Regions from separate parts of the Homo sapiens genome. Here region 1 is linked to region 2. Evidence: fine-mapped expression QTL. Tissue or cell type: tibial nerve. Region 2 holds a variant in brackets; the other region holds the start of a gene. All regions are shown on one strand. Distances are from middle to middle.

What was found. PIP is the estimated chance that this variant, and not a neighbour inherited with it, causes the effect.
Region 1: it holds the start of FRAS1, and the variant in region 2 is fine-mapped to the expression of FRAS1 in tibial nerve (GTEx, PIP above 0.99).

Annotation. Positions count from the first base shown.
Region 1 is chr4:78,052,306-78,060,414 of GRCh38, reverse strand. It overlaps FRAS1 (Fraser extracellular matrix complex subunit 1), which reads right to left and starts at 3,092. Exons shown (of 74, transcript NM_025074.7): 1 at 2,330-3,092. The coding sequence starts at 2,405. RefSeq lists an enhancer at 3,535-4,506.
Region 2 is chr4:78,562,557-78,570,665 of GRCh38, reverse strand. All of the region lies in intron 2 of ANXA3 (annexin A3), which reads right to left. Among named protein-coding and RNA genes, the nearest start is that of ANXA3, 15 kb to the right of the region's middle. The variant A/C (reference allele first, on the strand shown) is at 4,614.

The DNA of each region.
Region 1 (8,109 bases), 510 kb after region 2:
CAGCAAAGGTGTCACAAGGTACATCCCATCAAAAGAAGTATACATGTGAATGTCTCTTTTCTATTTTTAAAAATTATTCTCTAGGCTGATAATAAAAACTTGAGGAGATTTCTAAGATCCTTGAGGTTTCCAACCTTGATCTCAATGCTCTTATTTTTTAAAGAAAAAGAAAACCTTGAGAGGACCAAACCAGAGGTCTCATCAGATGACAAATGTTTTTTTGTCTGTGGGAGTGATATCACTTAATTAAACTAATTAAATGAGATAAAGTATGTAAAGTGCTTAGCAAAGAGCCAGGCAAACAATACCTGCTCAATAAATGGCCATGTTCATTCATTCATTCATTCATTATTAGATAAGCACCATTATGACGTGGGTGGAAACTCAGACATCTATCAATTTATCAATCCAATTTGTGAAACAGCTATAGAATGCTCTGACAGTAAAGTCAAACAATAAGAAGCAAAGTTTCCAAAGACTCTTTGGAGTAATATCCACACCCTCTCTCCGCCCCCGCCCCCGCCCCCCGTCTCTACCCCCAGCTTTCTGTGCTTCACATCCCCCCATCCCCACCTCCCAGTCTAGATTCCGCACTTCTTAAACTTGGCCCACTGGATCAAGCAATCTGCCAAAGAGCGCACCCTGCAGGCTCTTAATAATAATGCCTTTTGTTGATTTCAGAGTTTTGGTTCCGACAAGCTGCACCATTCCAACTGCCCCCTGGTGAGCTATCCGGGAGTGATAGCACGTTTCCTGCGTTGCTGGGATAGGACTCTAAATTTTAAAAACTGCCACCAAGTGAAATTAATTTTTCTAAGTACCAAGTTCAGGTTTGGGTGGCCTGGGGTGACTCTCTCATCTGGTTTATTGTTATAATCAAGCCCTACAAGCTTTTTTTTTTTTTTTCCAAAGTACGCGCCCACACGCACATAAACAATAAAGTTATATTTCTACAGGACTTGCACTGTTGGGAGAAGGCTGCACAGGCCCCAGATGTGCCTTTCGCGGAGATTATACACACTTGACACACATCCCGGAAGAGTGCAGAAGGCAGCACCTGGACCCACGGGAAAGTCCCCCACCCTTGTGCGTGGATTCCCAAGGCCTTTCTCTTGGGAAGCCAGCAAAGAAAAGGCAGCTGCTCCAGTGACTGGAGGTCGACCCGAGGCAGAGCTTTGTCCTCCCCGGGCCTCCCGCAGCCCCCAGTCCTGCGCCAGAGCTCGACTCCCGGGAGCCGCCCCGCGCCCCTTCCTAGGCACCAGGGCGGAGAAGGCGGCCCGCCCTGCGCCCGCCGCCGCCGCCCAGCCGCGGCTCTGGTTTGCGGCTGGGCAGGTGAACTCTTCTTCCCGCAGCTGGATGAATAATGAATGGAGCCGGGAGGGGAAGCCGAGAGCCAGGCGCTGTGGATTAAGCCGTCTTCCTCCCAGCCCGCCGGCTCCCTTCCCCCTCCCTAAGCACTGGCGGGGCGACTTCCCTGGCTCCTCGGAGCAGGAGGGAGCTCACAGCGCCTCGCGTCCCCAGGCCCGGCATCCCATGACCCCAAACTCTTGATTTACTTATTGACTCATTTATTTGGCTGAGCCCGGATTGCATTTGATATCATGGCGACAACTAGTCTCACGGCTTCCTTTTCTCTCCTGCGGCTCCGGGGTTTTACAGGTAGCTTGGAGCCTCGGAGGAAAACCAGGAGGCGGAGGGTGAAGTAAAAGAATGAACCTAAACTCTTATTAACCACTTTTGTTCTGGGAAGCAGGCTGGTTCGTGCTTCTCCGTACTGGAGAGATTTCTTTCAGTGCAACTGAACTGCCCACGACCAGAACACGCTCCAACCAGTTAGTTATAAAATCCTAACTGGACTTTAGGGGGAGACTAACTGAGGTAAGGAGGGCGGGAGAGCGATGGGGCTTTAAGATGAAAGACTGTATGTTTCTTAGGAACAGAAGTATTTTTAAACAGGTAAGAGCAATTGTTCGCTCCTCACCTGTGCTCCATGCAGTTGCTTTCCCTTCGGGGAAAGGTAGGTGGTGGAAAGAAAAAGGATCAGTTTCAGAGATGTCACCTCCATCGGCCACCCACCCACCCAAAAGCACTTAGGGCAGAGAGGGAGGCCGTTTCGGGGGTGTAATCCGAATACAAAACAATCAGGAGTAGGAATCTTATCAGAAAAAGCCTATTCCAGTTTCACTTCCACCTCACCCTTCCCAGAAAAACTTCCACCTCACCGAAATACCATAAAACCTGCTGAGATTTTTAAACTGCACGATCACTCACACATACACACACACACGCACACGCACACACACACACACACGCGGCACCGCTCTCTCACCTTCGGAATGATGAGGCAATACTGCAAATTCCGCCAACGCTAGGGCCAGCCCGAGCCACACTTTGAGGACACCCATCGCCGCCTCGGCACCCACGATGGAGGAGCCCAGCCTTCAGCATCCAAGAAGCGGCTCCGCCAAAACGCTGGCTCCGGCGCTTGGAACCCGGGCGCACTGAAGGTGGGGGACCGCGGGCCTTTACCTCCGGGAAAAAGAGATGGACGGGCGGAGAGCGACACTCATCAGCCCGGAGGCGCCGGAGCGGGCTGGGGTTCAATTCACTCGCTGCTCAGGCAGAGAGCGCGCCGAGTTCCCCCGCAAGGCAGGACGCCAACGTGAGCTTTGGGAGAATAAGAGGAGGCAGAGCACAGTTCTCCGCGTCAAAATCTCGCCGGAAAGTTGCTGGTCACTGGCCGATGGGATCTTCCAGCATTTCCCTCGGGCTAGACCCTTCCGATCCCGGGTCCCCGACAGTGGAAATCCTGGCTCTGGTTTGTCCGAAGCAGCTTTTTAAAGTTCGCTTGGCACCATACGTCGGCGTTGCGTCGGCACCGCGGGTCGCCGGGAGCCCCGAAAGACCCACCCACACCCACTCCTTGGTCGAGCCACCCGGCTCGGCAGACCTCATCTGCCGGGGTCCGCTCGCTGGAAACTGTGCAGCGCTGAGGGCAGCTCCGGGGACTCGCCCGCCCTGCAGCCGCACCGCACCACACCGCCTCAGGCTGCGCTCCCTGAAGCAGACTGTTCGGAAGCTTCAGAGGAAAGACTGGGGGGCGCTGCTGCTACTTTCTCGTCCCCGCCCCTCGCCTGGGTGAGGAGGGCTGCGGGGACGCGGCTTGCTGCACACCAACACCCACCTCCGCGCTGAACACCCCGGAGGAGGTCTGCAGGGTAGAGGTGCAATGATTACGGGAGTGGAAGAAGAGCCATAATTTTAATTGCACGGAGGAAAAAGCTAGCGAGGCTGGAAAAGACCCCCAAACTCAAGGCCACTCTGGCGAGAGAGCCTGGAAACGCCCAAAATACGCCGGGTCTGGACCCCGTGTTTAAAGGACACACGTTCAGCCTTCCTCTAGTCTCCCTTGCCTCCTTCCTCTCTGCTTTGCTCGGTGTGAAAATGGACCCAGAGACTCGGAGCTTTGGCGAAATTCCAGAGAGTCACGTGGGGAAAGGGAGAAGCGAGGAGGGAGGTGAGGGGAGGCCGGGAGAGCAACCTGATCCCTTTATTCATTCTGCTGGAGTTCAGATTGGCTTTGTCTGGGGAGGAATCAAAAGTGCTCATACCGGGGACGGAGGGGGTGGAGATAGGTTGCACAGTTCTTGCTCAGGCACACCGGAAGGCAGATGAACCGTGTCCACATCCCTTGTTAGGGGAGGAACCGATTCGGCGGGCTGGGGGAGCGTGTGCCCACATCAAAGGCCCTGGGGCTACCTCCCACCCCCACAGCCCGCCACTCCTGCTGAACTAAGTGCGTCCGGGGGACCTGATTGATCCTTCTTCCTCGCTCTGGGACCCTCAGGCTGTTGCATCCTGGCTTTTACCAGCAGCCCGGGAAGATCTTGGTGTGTGTGTCCTAGGCGGAGCCTGAGAGCAAATGCACCTTTCCCTTTCCCTAGGAGACTCTGTCAGTGGAACACAACGCGGTCTGGGAGCTGTGGGTCCAGCTGCGCCCCCAGATGCCAATGGCTGGGAAAGTAACATCAGGACACGGCCGACTGGGGCGCGCACTTGAAGAGCAGAGGCCTTGATTCCCCGCCAGGACTGACTGACGGCAGCTATTTTTATAGGACCGAATAAAAATAGCTGGTCCACGTTTAATCGTTTTATAAGGGAACAGTTGCATCAGAGAGATGCTGACTGGGTTCTGATTGGCCCAGAGAAGAAACGTCTCGGGTCCCTCAATTGAGTCGGGATGGGCGAAACTGTTGGAGGGGAAGCAGTTGCATGAGCTGTGCTGGCGGGGGTCCCACTTGTTTCCAGTCTTCACGAACACCATGACGCGGGCCCACGTTCTAACGTGCACTGACGCCACTTGGAACAATTCACTTTTCCGAATAACTGGAATAACTTGAAACTGGCAGGTCCCTGTCAGTGTTACTATTCAGCCAGAACAAAGGAGAACCTCTGACAACCTGGCTCTGAATCTTAAGTATTTGGAGGACCCAGGGTTTGCACATTTCGCCCTCAGTCTCTCTGTTGGGCTGTGGTCATTCTAGGGACAGAGGTTGTATCATCTTTGTATAATTGAAGCACATAGTAGGTGCTCTTTAAACATTTGTTGAAATAATGGATTAAGTGCCTGAGAGCAGCGGCCATATCAAGGGGAGCTGCGGGCCTTAACCTCCTCCCAAAAAAAGACCCCTCCCTTTTTATTTAGAAAGTAGGGCCTGTGCGGTGGCTCACGCCTGTAATCCCAGCACTTTGGGAGGCCAAGGCAGGCAGATCACGACGTCAGGAGTTCGAGACCAGCCTGGCCAACATGGTGAAACCCCATTTCCACTAAAAATACAAAAATTAGCCACGTGTGGTGGCACATGCCTTTAATCCCAGGTACTCTGAAGGCTGAGGCACGAGAATCACTTGAACCCGGGAGGCAGAGGTTGCAGTGAGCAGAGATCTCACCACTGCACTCCAGCCTGGGTGACACAGCGAGACTCTGTCTCAAAAATAAAGGTCGGGCGGGGCGGGGGGGTGGAGGACATCTTCTCAATCCATGTAAAGTGATGTGCAAATTCAAACTCAGCTTCCAACACACTCTGACAACCAGACGGTCACCCTTAAACCCCCTCCTAATTTTGCAGCTGCTACTGAATGGGAGTAACTTAAACCGTTTGTTCTCTCAAAAATCAACAATTTGATTTTATTTTAAAAATCAAGCTGGGTGCAGTGGGGTGCACCTGTAGTCTCAGCTACTCCAGAGGCTGAGGCGGGAGGATCACTTGAGCTTGGAAGTTGGAGGCCATGGTCCACCCTGATTACGCCTATAAATAATCACTGCACTCCAAAAATCATACAATTATGGCACAGGTCTCAATAAGATATCTGTTATACTTGCTAATTGCAAATATGCTACTTTTCAAAAAGGAAAAGCAATAAATAAAGGGAGAATAGCACTACCAAGTTACCCTGAATTAATCATATGCTGTATTTATTGGATTTATATATAACATCCCCCCTTGACCACCAGTCCACCACAGGGGCACATGCTGGCCCACTCACATAGTCCTCCCTCTGCCCTAAGTAGTCAAGGGAGAAGGCAGCCTGAGTCCTTGCCCTAAGATCACTTGGAAGAGCAAAGGGTCAACCAATATTTCTGTAATATTAGGCATATCTAACACCTATGTTCACTTCAACTGAAATGTTGGAAAAAGAGATTATATAAACCTAACATATTTCATTATGATGAAAATTTAGTAAGCATGTTTATGGAGATGCACCTAATCATAACTAGCTTATCTCTATAAGTTAACCTCCACAAATGACAGCTTCATGCTTCCTCATAGGAAGTTGGCAATTCACTAGCCAGAGATATTTGGGTCTATATCTTCAGTCCTCTTTAGTTACAAGTCCAGATTCCACAACTTTTGTTAATATGTTCCACAATATCTCCTTGGATCAGCCCTGCTGTCATCTCTTCACAACTCCCTGTCCTTGTTGCTGCCCATTTTGGGGAATTTATTTATCAACTCCTGCTGTAAACGATAATAATAACAATGATAACACATATTGAATATTTTGTGCCTAACACTGTACACTTTCTCATGTAATCCTCCAATAACCACGTGAGATAGGTGCTATTATTATTTCCATTGACAGGTGAAATAACAGATGTTCAGAGAGTTAAGTAATCTATCCAAAGTCAGACAGCTAGTACCTGACAACGCATATCAGAGCAAGAAATTCTAGCTCTCATAACAGGCAAACTCCCAAATCACAGTATCTTAACACAAAAAGAGTTTATTTCATGATCACATCTTGGCCCCTGGGAATTGGTGACTCCTTCTAGTCAGGCCATCATGAAACATATGACACCCATGGCTTCTGCATGGGGTAATGAAAGAGGCATTGCAAACTTTAAGGGCCTCAGCCCTTCCTGTCACAGTTCAATGACAAGAATGAGTATTGTGACCCCTATCTACTTACAAGGGAGGATAGGACACATAGGGGAAGACATATCTATTTAGTGAGCACTAACTGTACTGCTTTACCCTAGCACCCATGCTCTTATCTAGCTTAACTGTCCTTAGTTATCTATCTATCTATCTATCTATCTATCTATCTATCTATCTATCTATCATCTATCTGCCTACAGTTAACTATCTTAACTGTCCTTACCAAGGCCCCAGTTGCACATTCCCTGATGCCACCAGGGCTCTGCTGACCTTTATTACAACTCCTCTACAGATTCAACAGTCTGCCTTTGCTCTGCTTTCCTGCTCATCTGCTTTCCTGCTCATCTGCTTTGCTCTTTTTACTCTTTCTCCCTCCCATCTCCCTTTCCTCTGCTTCTCACTGTCTTTCTTCTGCATAACCCTACTCTGTGTGTTGAGTCTTCTATCACATCTTTCTCCTGTACGTGCCTTCTCTGATCTTCTTTCAGTTGCCCTGGGAGTGTTCTTGCAGTCGTAGTGCATTTGTTCTGCTTTGTGCATTCCAGCATGCGACAATATTTATTGCCTTTTTTCTGCTTCAAATAGTTATTCCAAAAAAGAATATTCAAATAATACAGAAATATAAACTGATTGGCTCTGTTATAATCTAGCCCCTCTGCAAGGATAACCACAGCATATACATTCAGAGATTTTCCCCTGCTTAAAGATAATTCCTTTTACAAAAATGGGATTATAACTTACATGCTATTTTATAACTTGCCTCCCGCTCTGAACAATATACTGTGCTATAGGCAAGCCACAAGTTTCCAAGCCAAATCATATTGATCTATGTCATTATTTTTAAGAGCTGCTCTGGTTAACATTGTATTGATATGTCTATTTCGCCAATCCCCTTTTGAAGAACGTTTAGATTGTTTCCAATTTTTTGCCATTGTAAACAATACAACACTAAATGTCCTTATAAAAGCCCTTTATGTACTTACCCAATTTATTTCCCCGGAATAAACTTTTGTAGGTGAAACTGCTGTGTCAAAGCATGAATAAAAACTTTTGTAGGTGAAATTGCTGGGTCAAAGCATGCTCATTTATCATTTTGATCTGTATCATTTAATCTGCAAATCGCAAAAGATAAAATAGCACTTTTCTGAACACCACTTATTAGCTGTGTCCTCAGGCATTTTAACCTCTGAGCCTCGGATTCCCTGTCTATAAAATGGACATTATGATAGTGCCCACCTCACAGGAATTTTGTTTGCATTAAATAAGACAAAAGTACCTGACTCAGGTTATCCACTTAACAGATGTTAGCCAAGTAAAATAGAGGTATTTTTAAAATCTGCGTTTCTCTGCTCTAATGAGCAGATGTGAGCTGAAACACCTTTCATATACTTATTGTGTGTGCGAATGGCCTGTTTATAGTGGGTTCTTTTTTTAGTGGGTTTTTTGTTTCTATGTAGAACTATAAGTGTTCTTCACATATTCAGGATATTCATCCCTTTCTCTGAATTTGGATAATCCCTTACTGAAAGGGAGTAGCTATTTACTGTTTATTTTTGTTGGAAATTGTCATTTCCTCAGCAGTGTCACTGGAAGTGCATGAAAGATTAAAACCAAGAAGGAGGCTTTATAACTAAAACTTTTTTCCTGGAATAAAATAAACAAAAGGTAC
Region 2 (8,109 bases):
TCTACACAGCTAGTTGCAGGCAGAGGCTGAATTTAAAAGCAAACTAGACTATTCCAGACCATTCCTGGTGTTTCATGAAGTGCAGTCTCTGTACCACCTGGAGTGATACTTTAAATGTATATGACCAGGACACACCTTCTATATACTGAATCATATGTTTTAGAGATGGGGTGCTAAATTCTACATGTGTAAGAAGCTCCCAGGTGATTCTGTGCCATGCAGATATTGACGTGGCTGATTCTAAATATAAAAAGACAAAATTGTGGTCAGATCCCAGTTGTTCATGCATCATGAAAACTCAGGGTTTGCACTCCAGCTGTGAACTTTTCACTGGCCTTTACCACCTACACATCAAAATATGCTAAAATGCCAATGCACAGAATTAGAGAAGGAGGAAATTCCCAATTTATTATGCAATTTAGTACTTAGCAAGAATTAAATGGGGGAGGAATAACTTGTTTAATTACAAGGGGGGAAGAAAGTACGCACACACACACCCCAACTTGAAAAAGGGCTTGGGAATTCTGAAGTGGAATTTTAGTGAAATATTTAAAACTGCTTCCATTATTTAAACGAATGGCATTATTCATTTGATAGACTTGGTTGCCCAAATCATTCGGAAATATTACATGACTTACAAAATAATCTTACAATCAAAGATTAATGAAATCTTTTAAAACTAATACATGAACAAAGTGATTTACAAACATTTAACTCTTACAAGAGCCTTCATGAGGTGAATTTTATTATTTCTAATTGAAAATGGAAGAAACCCAGTCTCACAGAGATTATTTGCTTAAAAGAGCTCTGCTAATAAGGACAGCCCCAGGACTCAAACCCATCACCTTATGACTAAAATGCCCCCTGCTCTATGTCACATCACAATGCCTCGAGGGAGTTCATCTTAGTGGTTCTCAAAGTGTGGTTCCTGAAGCAGCTGCATCAGCATCACCCGGGAATGTGACAGAAATGCAAATTCTCAGGCCCAACCCCAGTGTTCCTGAACCAACAACTGCAGGGCCAGGATGCAGAATCTGCGATTTAACAAACCTTCCAGGTGATTCTAGTACACAATAAAGTTTAAGAAGCACTGCTTTATTTCCTTCTTAGCTGTCTAGAAAACCAAAGCAAAAATGAGCAAACAAGCCATGAATTCTCTTATGGGTGTGGAAGATGAAGAATTTAATGATGAGCTCATCGCTTCAGGAATGTCGGCATTTTTACAGCCAAACAGGACTGCTTGCATTGCCTGCTCCACTGCAAGCTTAATTCCTTGACATTTATATTACTAATCAATACTTGGCTGAGTTTATTTCCAGTAACCCTAGTGTCCTAACATAGTCAGTGCTAGCGTAGAACATCACCTGAATACTTGGCAAAGTCTATTTAAAAAAAAAAAAATTGCCTTTGATCAGATTTCCATCCACACATTTAAACACATTTAGTTGCTTTCCTTTTCTGAAACTTGACCTTCAGATGCCTCCAAAAGAAAAATGCTGCTGAAGCCAGTTGGAAAACAAATTAAAGCAAAGAATGTCTAGATAAAGGGGGAAAGTAACAGGAGCTCTTTATACTAAGAACAATTGCTGCTAATCACTATGTGCCAAGTACTGTGCTAAGCGCGTTTCCTGCATTTGCTTATTCAATCCTTGCAATAAACTTATAAGGTAGATATAATAAATCCTTTTCACAGATGATGAAACTGATGATTAAGTAACTTGTCTAAGTTCCCACAGCCAGTAAGTGGTCTGTTCCAACAGTCTTTGCTCCTAAACTAGACTAGCCTTCATCTCATTTAAACCATCTTTTTCAAGACAATATAATCTCCCTTGATCTTCTAAAATCATCCTTCGGAGGTCAGCCTTAGCACATGACACCTTGAAGCCACTGCTTGGCCAAGCTGGGCCTAGGGAGCTGTTTGCTATTGCCCCTGGGAGAGGCCAGTCTGTTTTTGACTCACAAAAGCCAGTTGTACCTATTTCTTTATGCAAAGTGTACTGTGTTTGCAAGAAGTTAAACATTTACATTCAGAAGGATGAGTGGAAGAGAAAAACAGAAGGTGCCAACCCTGTTGATATGAAACATATTTAAAGCCAAATGCTACAGAGCAAGAATAGCAGTTGCTGCAGGGACATTTTGAAGATGCGGTGAAGCCAGATCACTCATCACTTCAGAAAGCCCTATAAAGGCCACATCCAAAAATTGAGGCATCAAATCAAAGCTCCAGATAAAACTCCAGGACAAGGAGCTCTCAAAGAGCCGGGGAGAAACGATGGCTCTCTGTTCAATGTCAAGATGCTATGTTGGGTCATGAAGCTTTATGATACAAGGAAAAATGGAGTAGATTATAAAAAATAAAGCAATCAAACTTGGAAATTGTTAAGACTTCCTGTTCAATTTTTCCAGTAAAAAGCATTTTTCAAAACCAAAGAAAGTTTACTGTAAACAGCCCTGAAATAAAATGCAGTCAAGTGAGGCAGGTGTTATGGGTTGAATTGTGTCTCCCCAAAAAAATACCTTAAAGTCCTAACCCACAGTACCACAGAATGTGGCCTTACTTGGAGACCAGGTTATTGCAGATGTAATTAATTAAGATGAGGTCACAGTGGCAGGCCCCCAATCCAATACCACTGGTATCCTTATAAGACAGCCATGTAAAGGCAGAGACATACAGAAAGAATGTGATGTGATGGTGAAGGCAGAGACTGGAGTTACGCAGCTGCGAGCTGCCAGTATGAGACCAGAATGTGCCTCTTCAAAACATGAAGGATTGTTGAAGACAAGAAGAAACAGATACTCAAGAGATATCTTTCCTCCATTTGCCTAAAAGCAGGACAAAGATTTATGAAGACAAAAGGTATTCTGCCCTCCTGACTACCAGGGAGAACAAAGGTTAAAGACTGAAGATAGTTTAAGACCCTTATCAGCCTGACAATGGTATTAGAAGAATTTATATTAGCAAGCTGTACTAACTAACCTTTATCTGCAAGTTATTTGCCTTTCTTCACTGCCCCACCTGCAAGTTGCTGCCCACAGAGATTCAAAGGTCCTTTTCTATTGTCTTGTTACAAAAAATTTACTGTTCTTTGTTGAAGATGCTATATAAGCTGAAATTCAAAGCCACCTCTGAAAACTACTCATTCTCTTGGTGTCTCCATGTATACTCAAAATACACATGTTAATAAACTTCTGTCTGGTTTTCTCTTGTCAATCTGTCTTTTGTAACAAAGGTGCTTTCCAACTAAGAACCTATGGGGATTACTGTTACTCCCCTATACCAGTAAACCACTAGAAACCAGGAAGAGGCTAAGAAGTTCTCCCCTACAGCTTTCAGAGGGAGGACGGCCCTGACCACACCTTGATTTTAGACTTCTGGCCTCCAGAACTGTGAGATAATATATTCATGTCATTCGAAACCAGCAGCTTGTGGTACTTTATTACAGCAGCCCTAGGAAACTAATACAGCAGGTAAAGGCCAGAGAAAAATACTGGTAACCAAGCGGTTCCTACAGGGCAAATCCTGGGGGCCTCGCCTAAGAGCCTCCTCACCTAGAAGTGCCACTGGCTGGCAATGATCACTGTGCCTATGGAAGATGATGCACAAACAGAAGCCTCCCACCACCACCGCAGGCATGCTCTGCAGCCCACAGGGCAGTAAGGAGTAGGCGGTGCTGAACGTCCACAGCAGGCAAGACTGGCAGACGCTGGGATCCCTGAGATATGCCAGGCTGACAACATGGCTTTGTTCATAATGTGTCCAAAGTTCTGAAGAAAAAGTTTATATTTGTTCTTGGGCTCACTCAAAGAAAAAATATTCATACTTTTCAGCTTTTCTTTTTTAAATTTCTTAAAAATATTTAGGGGGTACAAGTGCAGATTTCTTACATGCAGATGGTGCATGGTGGTGAAGTCTTGGCTTTTATTAGTGTACCCGTCACCCGACTAGTGAGCCCTGTGCTCAATAGGTAATTTTCAGCCCTTAGCCCCTCCCACCCTCCCACCTTTTGAAGTGTTCAATCTCTATTATTCCGTTCTCTATATCAATGTGTACCCATTGTTTAGCTCCCACTTATAAGTGGTATTTGACTTTCTGCTTCTGAGTTATTTCACTCAGGATAATGGCCTCCAGTTCCATTCATGTTCCTGCAAAAGACATGATTTCATTTTTTTTTTTTTTGTGGCTGAGTGGCTGAGTAGTATTCTATAGTATAGTATAGTATAGTATTCTACATTCATTTTCTTAATTCAATCCTCTGTTGATAAACCTTAGTTTTATTCCATATTTTTGCTACTGTGAATAGTTCAGCTTTTCTTTTTTAAATAGAGTGATTTCATCATCAGGGCAGTGTCAGAGCAAGAGGACTGGAATGTGAGAACAGAGGAGGGTGTGGGATGGAGTAGAAAGATGAATGAGATTCAGAAATCAGGGAAGACAGGGACAAACAAGCCATTGATGTTGTATTTTCCATGACACATGAGTTATAATAAGAAGCCTTGACCCCTTGGAGCATGTGTCACTCACAGCTAGCCTGCCTTCCATTGGCTCCTGTGCCTCACCTCCTAGGTTTCTTCCCGCCTCTCCAGGATGCACTCACCTTTGTCTGACCTCTATA[A/C]AATACGCAATTCTAAAGTGGAAAGTGGCTCTCTCTTTTCTTTCCCTCTAATCCTGCTGTGGGTTATTTCTTCCACTCCCTCTTCTGTATACAGAAAAATCCCACATTATAGCTCTAGCCCAGACTTCAGTTCTGAGCACTGGTCTTGTATATTCAATGTCTCCTCCATGTATTTGTTTTGATTATCTCCTATATCAACTCATTGTTTCCTCCCAAGCTATTTCTTCCCCCTTCTGACACTTACATAGTACTTACTTGTATTTTACATATACCTGATCATTTAATCCTCAAAACCACCCTATGAGGTAGGTACAATTAATACCGTGATTTTATAGAGGAGAAAAAAGAGGGTCCAGAGCGGTTAAGACACTCGCCAAGGTCACATAGGTAGTTTGTGGCACAGCCAGGATTTGAACCTAGGCAATCTGGCTCCAGTTTCTGTGCTCATCGCCAATTTGCTCAGTTTCCTCAACCTTCCCCATCCCTGTAAAAGGAGCAATCATCAGCCACCAGAAACCTGGGAGTCCCCTTTGATTCCTTCACCTGCATTTCCCTCTGAATTCCATCTATCAGCAAGGCCTGCTGAGATTATTTTAAGAAGATAATCGCATGGGCGCTCCTCCCCAGGTTCTTTGCTCCTGCTCTTGTCCAACTCACAATCATCGCTCTCCCGTACTTGAACATCTGAGTCATGTTCCTCTCTACTTCCTACTTCCCATCTCCAGCCATTTCCCACATAGCAGCCAAGGGATCTGTTAAAGATCTAAGTCGGGCCAGGTGGGGTGACTCACACCTGTAATCTCTGTGCTTTGGGATGGATCACCTGAGGTCAGGAGTTCGAGACCAGCCTGGCCAATATGATGAAACTCTGCCTCTACTAAAAATACAAAATTTAACCAGGCGTGGTGGCAGGTGCCTGTAATCCCAGCTACTCAGGAGGCTGGGGCAGGAGAATCACTTGAACCCAGGAGGCAGAGGTTGTAGTGAGCTGAGATCGTGCTACTGCACTCTGGTCTGTGCAACAGAGCGAGACTCCATCTCAAAAAAAAAAAAAAAAAAAATCTAAGTCAGATCTTGTCACTCCCCTATTTCACACTGAATAGAGTCCAAACTCCTTACACTGGTCCATAGGGCCCTGCATGGTTTGGCCCAACCACCTTCATGACTCTTATCTGGAGCCACTCTCTCCAGATGAGAGGTAGAGTTCCCACACTTCAGTTCTTTGAAAGTCAAGCTGGTATACAATGAACTCTTTCCCACCTTAATGCCTTGGTTTGTGTTGTTCTCTCTAACTGGAATGATTTTTACCTTCAGTCCTCTCCTTAAAGACCATCTTCTCTAACAGATCTTCTTTGGCACTTGATCTGAGTAGGTCTTCTACTGTTATTCTGCATCTCAGCCACCTCTCCATTGTTAGGGCACTCAGCATTGAGTAATACCTCTCGCTGTTTATATCTGTCTCTCCACCCCCTCTAAAATAAAATTCCAGAAGGCAGAGACATTTGTTTCACTCATTCCTATTTATCCAGCTGGGAGCCCAGTGCTCAGTCCCCAGATAGGGGCTTAATACATAACTGTGAATTAGTTTGCTAAGTAAGAATATGAAAGCAAGACAATGACATCTCACAGTGTGGACTTTCTCCAAGCTCTACACTAGATGGTTGGCTGCCCGATGAGTTGCTTCCTTCAAGTATCAATAGTCTAGAAATCAAAGTTCCTATTGTATTCTGGGAGATTTGGGAGATACTTCAGAAGCTGAGTGTTTTCTAGTACACTGGAGACATGAAATGCATGACTGTGTCTGGTGATTCTGTTACATCTTCCTTCCTGTCTCTCCAAGCGCTCAGGGTTTCTCTGACAAAGGTAGCAAACCCAACTATCTGGATTGAGTTTGAAACACTTGGCCTCCCCAGAGACTTTATTAACATGAACATCTTTCTCAGAATAATTTTCATGTATTTGTTTAAAGCAGATTATAAATAATTTGTATTAATCTTCTTTTGAGTCATCTAGCACCAGTATTTGTAGATTATCTCTTTGTTCTACAATCAAAGTAAAGTGCTTAACCTAGTTAAGAGTTCTTGACCAAATTCTCTTGGCCAAGGGTCACAAAGATTTGAAGACTAACATGGCTATTCTGGCCACATACTCAGCCCTGTGCATGTGTAACTTCTGCGGGAGACGTCCCTGTCTAAGGGTCCTGCAATCTAACAGGAATATATAGAGAATTTATATCTTCCTGGATATATGGAGAAATATAGGGAATTTGGCTCACTGAAGTGCAGAATCCACATCTTCTTAAATGGCCCTTGGCTAGAGAACGGTGGCTGTCTGTCTTAGCATTCCAGGCTGATATAACAAAATACCACAAACTGGGTGTCTTATAAATAATAAAAATTTATTTCTCACAATTCTGGAGGCTAAAATTCCAAGATCAAGGTGCCAGCAGATTCAGTGTCTAGTGAAGGTCCACTTTATGGTTCATATACGGCACCTTCTGGCTGTGTTCTCACATGGCAGAAGACGTGACCAAGCTCCCTCAGACCTCTTTTAAAAGGGCAATAATCCCCACCTAACCTAATCACCCCCCAGAGATCCCATCGCCCAATCATCCTGAAGGTCAGGATTTCAACCTATGAATAAGGGGCAGGTTGGTGGGGGAGGGGGAACGACACAGACATTTAGACCACAGCACTGGCTTTGCAGGATTTGGGGACACTTACTCTATCCACCTCACTCCTATGAGGATGAGAAACCTGTGAGGGACTGGGATCAGGGATGTCTCCTGTTTGTAATATTCTGGGCAGAATACTTCTTACATAAATGGCCAAGGTAAATGATGTCTACTGGACATGATGGTAAATGCATTATTTTATGGGTTATTTATGAGTTTTTTTAAAAAGCGATAATCCCAACAAGAAGTTGCAGCAAATTTAAGAATGCTTCCTAATGTAAAGTAAACCTAGAGAATGGAAACTCCTTGAACAGTCCATGTGAAGACTTCTTGGGACTCTCTGTGGCCCTTGGAGGATAATAAAGTACCATAAAAGAGAATTGTAATACCTCCCCCAATCCCCTTGTAATCTTGTATCCCTGTTTTTGCTTCGTGGGAATCTTCCTGTTGCATTCAAATGTGTCTTGCCCATCTGCCTCAGGGCTTACACTTATCATTCCGTCTGCCTGGCTGCTCTTTCCCGAGATATTCCCTCAGCTCACCATCTCATGCCACGTTGACTTCTCCTCCTATATCTGAGCAGAAAATCACACCCCCCATCATATTTATTATCCACCTTTACTTTTCCCCAGAGCACTTAAAACTGTCTTTTTATACTGTACATTTATTTCTTCATTTATTGTCTGTCTTCCCTAATAAAATGTAGGTGCCATCCTTTTTATTTCTCTTTCTCTGCTGTGTTGCCAGAGCCAATATCTGGCATATAAAAGATAGTTAGTAAATATTAGTTGAGTGAATAAATGAATTAAAAATGCTTTCTTG